Linked DNA regions of Homo sapiens: region 1 is linked to region 2. The links come from fine-mapping of genetic effects on gene expression. A gene starts in region 2. The other region holds a variant in brackets. All regions are shown on one strand. Distances are between the middles of the regions. Region 1 overlaps ASB18 (ankyrin repeat and SOCS box containing 18). Region 2 holds the start of ASB18 (ankyrin repeat and SOCS box containing 18).

Evidence for each region. PIP is the estimated chance that this variant, and not a neighbour inherited with it, causes the effect.
Region 1: its variant is the best candidate, but not a certain one, in a credible set for the expression of ASB18 in putamen (GTEx, PIP 0.67).

Annotation. Positions count from the first base shown.
Region 1 is chr2:236,235,365-236,238,272 of GRCh38, reverse strand. ASB18 (ankyrin repeat and SOCS box containing 18) reads left to right here. Exons shown (of 6, transcript NM_212556.4): 3 at 317-584. Among named protein-coding and RNA genes, the nearest start is that of ASB18, 28 kb to the left of the region's middle. The variant G/A (reference allele first, on the strand shown) is at 1,435.
Region 2 is chr2:236,262,937-236,265,844 of GRCh38, reverse strand. It overlaps ASB18 (ankyrin repeat and SOCS box containing 18), which reads left to right and starts at 1,439. Exons shown (of 6, transcript NM_212556.4): 1 at 1,439-1,704. The coding sequence starts at 1,500.

The DNA.
Region 1 (2,908 bases), 28 kb after region 2:
CCCCATTTCCCAGTCACCCCCGTATTTGGCAAAATCCTCTTGCTTCTCAATACCCGGCGCCCCATCTCTCTAGCTCGGTTTTAGCCTTCAATCTCTCCTTTGTATTTCTTCCTCTGTCTACGCCTGTCTCTTCCCAGTGTGTCTCTCTGCTCTCTGTCTCTGTGTGCGTCTCTGATTCTATCCTCTTCTCCCTACATGCCTACCTGGTACCTACCTTTAAGAGACGGCTTCACTTTCTTTCCGCCTTAAGGAACACCGCCCACCACCACCACAACTAACCTCCCCCTGACCTTACATCCCACCTCCCTCCCCGCAGGCCTCTGGACCCTGGAGTACAAGCGTGAGCTCACCACGCCCCTGTGCATCGCCGCGGCCCACGGCCACACCGCCTGCGTGCGACACCTGCTCGGCCGCGGCGCAGACCCAGACGCCAGCCCCGGCGGCCGCGGCGCCCTGCACGAGGCCTGCCTCGGGGGCCACACCGCCTGCGTCCGCCTGCTGCTGCAGCACCGCGCCGACCCCGACCTGCTCAGCGCCGAGGGCCTGGCGCCTCTGCACCTCTGCCGCACGGCCGCCTCGCTCGGGTAAGGACCTCGGGACAGGCCCGCGGCGTCCGCCCCGCCCCGAGACCAGACGCCCGCCTCCCCCCACGAGACCGCCGACCCCGCCTCCGCCTCCGTCCCAGCCCCCGCCTCCGGACCCAGACCCTGCACCCTTGACTCTGCCCACTGGATCCCCAGACCCGCATCCGCCCCGTCCCTACCCCGGCCCCTGCCTCGGGACCCAGATCCAAGATCCCTGACCCGGGACCCCAGACCTGGCACCTCCCGGCCCTCGCCCCGCGCCCCGGCCCCGGCCCCCGCCCCGCGCCCCGGCCCCGGCCCCCGCCCCGCGCCCCGGCCCCGGCCCCCGCCCCGCGCCCCGGCCCCGGCCCCCGCGGGTTTAATTAGCGCTTGATTGCGAGCGCGCGCGGGAGGCGCCACGCCGAGGTAATGAGCGCGGTGATCACAGCCCAGCCGCCGGCGCCGGGGATGCTAAAAGGCCACTGGCGGGGTTGGAGGCTGAAAAATTAGGGTTTTTAATGATAATTTTATGCAGAATAATTGTCACAGTGTGACATAAATGGTTAGCTCCTCGGGCGGGGCTTCCAGGCCCGCTCGGAAGCGGAGCTGTGCCGGCCTCTAGGGAGGCCCAGCGGCCGCTCAGCTAGTTCGCGCCCGGGCGCGGGGTCTGGGGGTCCCGCAGCCCCCGTCCCCAGAGAGCGCCCTCCCAGCGTGTGCTCCGGGTCTCGGAAAGGCAGCGGGGCCACCTGTCTTTGCACAGGACTCGTGTGGGGTTTCTCGGCTTGCATTGTGTCATCCTGACTTTTCTGTTAGTCAAAATGCTCCAGCCCCTGCCCTTGGAGTTGTCATTGCATGGCCTTCTGTCTCTGGG[G/A]GAAGATTAAGGAAAGTCGCCCACGTTTAGTGCTGGGAACCCGCGCGGCTCTCTCAGAAACCGCATCGCCCTTGCTGCTTCTCCACCGACTGTCAAAGTTGCCTGGATGTCCTGCCCAGCAGGGGCAGCAACGCAGGCAGGCGGGACTGCTGGGCATTCAGGGACTCAGGCAGGGGACCCACCTAAGAAAGGTCATTTGAGTTCAGAGGGGGGATCAGGGGGCCACGTGGACCCCCGCCAGTCTTGAGAAAGAGGAAGGAAACAAGGTTCTAGCAATGCTCTTTAAAAGCAGCTTTACCGAGGTGTGATTGACATTCAGCAAGCGGCACGTGTTTAAGGCGTACAATTTGATAAATTCCGCAGACTTATACACTCGTGCAACACCCCGCAGTCCATGGAGGGCAGATATTTATCATTCCCCCTGTGGCCTCACGGTGCCCACGGTTCTCCCTCCCACTGGCCCCTTTCTCACTCTCCATCCCTAGCATCTGCTTTCTATTACTTGGCTTAGTCTGAATTTTCTAGAATTTTGTATAAATGGAATCTGCAGTCTTTTATCTGGCTTCTCTCGCTCGACATAATTATTTTAAGATTCATCTGTGTTGCTGTGTGTGTCCGTAGTTCATTCCTTTTATTCCTGGGTAGCGGTCCGTGGTATGGATGAACCACAGTATGTTATGTTCATCCATTCAGATGTTGGGAGACATTTGATTGTTTCCAGTCTGGGTCTTTTACAAACAAAGTTATCATGCACATTTGTGTGCCAGCCTTTGAATGGGCATATGCTTTTATGCATTTTGAATAAATACCTAGGTCACACGGTATGATTAAGAACATAACTGTTAGGCTAGGTGCGGTGGCTCATGCCGGTAATCCCAACACTTTGGGAGGCTGAGACAGGCAGATCACTTGAGTCCGGGAGTTCAAGACCAGCCTGGGCAACACGGCAAAACCCCATCTCTACAAAAAATACAAAAATTACCCAGGCATGTTGGCATGCACCTGTAATCCCAGCTACTCAGGGGGCTGAGGTGGGAGGATCGCTTGAGCACAGGAGTAAGCCATGTTCACGCCACTGCACTCCAGCCTGGGTGACAGAGTTGAGACCCTGTCTCAAATAATAATAACAATAACTAATAAATGGCCCAACTAGTTTTGAAAGTTGTACCATTTTACATCCGCACCAGCGATGTCTGCATGTTCCAGTTGCTTTACAGCCTCACCAATACATGGTATGGTCAGGGCTTAATTGTATACATTCTAATAGGTGTGTACACATGTCTTGTTATAGTTTTGATTTTCATTTCCCTGGTAACTAGCGATGTTGAGCATTGTTTCATGAACTTACTTGCCATCCACATACAGTCATTTGTCGCTTAACGATGGGGATACATTCTCAGAAATGTGTTGTTTCATCATTGTGTAAACATCATAGAGTATATTTACACAAACCAGGATGGCATAGCCTACTGCC
Region 2 (2,908 bases):
GACCTAAATCAACATGACTCATCCCCAGGGGCTGGGCACAGTGCCCCCACCAAGAAAGCCAGGCTGTGTTGGGCAGGTGGAAGGAGAATGGATGTTGGGCAGGAACTACAGTGCCTGGCACCTCAAGTGCAGATGGAACAGAAGCTGGAAAATCACACAAATGAGCTGAAAGGAGGAAGAGGGTGTATTAGTCAGTGTTCTCCAGAGGAACAGAACCAACAGTTATGTAGGGAGAGAGAGAGAATTTCTCTTCAAGAATTGGCTCATACTATTGTGCAGACTTGGTAAATCCATCATCAGCAGGGTGGGCTGATAGGCTGGAGACCCAGGGAAGACCTGAGGTTGAGACCAAAGGCTGTCTGCCGCCAGAATTCCTTCTTGCTCAGGGAAAGTCAGTCTTTTGTTCTATTCAGACGTTCAACTGATTGATGGAGGCCCACACACATTAGGGAGAGCCATCGGCTTCACTCCAAGTCTGCCGGTTCAAGAAATTCTAATCTGATCCCAAAAACACCTTCATAGAAACATCTAGACTAGTGTTGGGCCAAGTCTCTGGGCACTGGGGTCCTAGCCAAATTGAGACATAAAATTAAGCACAGGGGAGAAGAAAGAAAGTAAGGAATGGAAAAGATGGCGAGATAGAAGGCAAGGCGAAGGAGGCCCTGTAAGCTCCACGGCCCGCCCTGGGCCCTCAGAGACCACAGCACACTTGGCATCAGCAGAGAAGCTTCAGGCACAGCTGTGCTTATGCACAGGTTGGCACACAGAGACCCAAGCACACTGAAGACACAGGTCAAGGAGAGAAAGCCCCACCTTTGCCCCTAGGAGTGCACAGAAATCCCCCTGAGGGCTCCACACTTCCACAAGTCATGGAATTATAGGCTTTGAGCAAAGTTTACCAGCCTTGAGGCATAGGGAGGTCACAGGTAATATTTAGGTTACTTTTTTTTGTTTTTCTGTGATGCTTCCGTCTTCCTGAGATCAGCCAGTCCTTCTCTGCATTTGGAAACCAAAGATTCCATTCCATTCTATGCGTTTGAGGCATGTCCAATTTGCAGGTGACCAGACGCTCCTTTTAGAGGAAGTGAAGGAACACAAGGGGTAGAATATTAGAAAATGTTCCTTTCCACAGAATAGAGGTCCAAGCCCAGTGCCAGGAAGAGGTTTTCAAAGTTTCAGGAGAGAGCCTCACTTTTGATAAAAGAAGATATTATTCAACAATACCCATGAAAGCTGTCTTTGAAAATATTGTCTCTCCTTCTTGCACCACTCACAAACATGTCTGCTGCCCCCATCTCTAGAATAATCCTTTGCTGAGGCCTCTGGAAAGATTACTTCACACCTCCCTGCTGGCAGGTGGCCCTCCGCAGGGACTGTAAGAGGAGCCAGGGTGCTGCTATTTATAGCAGCCCCCACGCCACTCTCACGGACAGCTGCTGACTTTGGAGTCGCTTTAGAGGAAGAAAAGAAGGGCTGGTCACTGCAGAAACGACGTAACAATGTCCAACTCGGATTACCTTCCCGACTACCCACTCAACTCAGATTTAGTGAAGAGATTAAAGTCTGCCCTGGATGCCAAAGATGAGGAGAGAGTGAGGGATTTAATCTGCACTGAAATCACGCCTGTGGACGCTGTGATAGAACTGGCCAATGACGACTGGATGAAAGACCCCTCGGCTCAGCTGCCCACCGGCATGCTGCTAGGTAACCAGAACGAGCCTGCTGCATCTGGGATTTAATTACTAAGTTACACTGATGGGGTGGGCAGATCCTGGAGGTAGAGGGGCAAATGTTTGGAAAAAGTAAATGATATGTACTCGGATATCTGACTCTCATACATACATGCATATATGTGTACTGCATAGACCATGTACATGCGTGTGCGACATAAGCAACAAGTGCAACACAACACAAAAAAACTAATCCTACCACAGTGGCTGCTCTGTGGCTCCATTGTTTTCCAAGCCTGTCCATTTGCGTGTGTAAATTTCACCCACTGATAACCATATCATACACATAATTGTGTGTTCTGCTCCCTTGAGATCTACAAAATCTAAATCTAAAGCATTTTCCATGTTGCTACATAGTCTTCCCAATTTCAATCCCCTACTGAAATACTTAAACCAAATGCCTACAAAAAGATAGTATTTGGTTACCTTTTTGCTTCTATAAATAATGCTGTAACGAACATCTTTATTAGGATTCATACGGCTTTTTTCTTTTTTGGGATTATATCCTTACCATAAATTCCTAGGAGCCATATAACTGGAACAAGAACATAACATTTTTTCAAATTGTATTGTTTCTAAATTGGTTCCAAATTGTTTTCCGCAAGGGTTTCTGTTCCCTCTGACAGTGAGGTGATGTGTTTCACCACAACCTCACCAAGGAGCATCACTGGTAATGAATGTTTGTATTAAATTGCCATTTGATAAGCACACACTGGTAATTCTTCACTGCCTGTCGCCCATCCTTTCTTTGCAGGTCTGGACAAAGTCTTGTCCATAGGATTTTTTCTTTGTAGGCCTCATCAGGTGCAAGACCTGTCTATTTGGGTCTTGGGCAGGAACTCTCCATCTCTTGGAATCATTTTTATCATTTTGTAGGACTTCTTCACGTAACATAGACATCATCCCTTTGTTAGGTTTCCTGAAAGTGTTTTCCTGACCTGTGATTTACTTTTAGTTGTATTGTGCTGTTTCCCAGCTTGTCAGATTAGGGGACAAGGTTAGTCTTGGCCTCTAAGGGATGCTGAGGGCTCCTTTCCACCCCCATTCTCCCTCCCAACATAGGTGCACACACGCACACGCAAGTACATGCATCACATGCACACGTGTGCGCAACATGCAGGAGGAACACAGATGGGACATGAGTGGGAGTTGCTGCTAGGGAATGGAGCTTGCAGGGT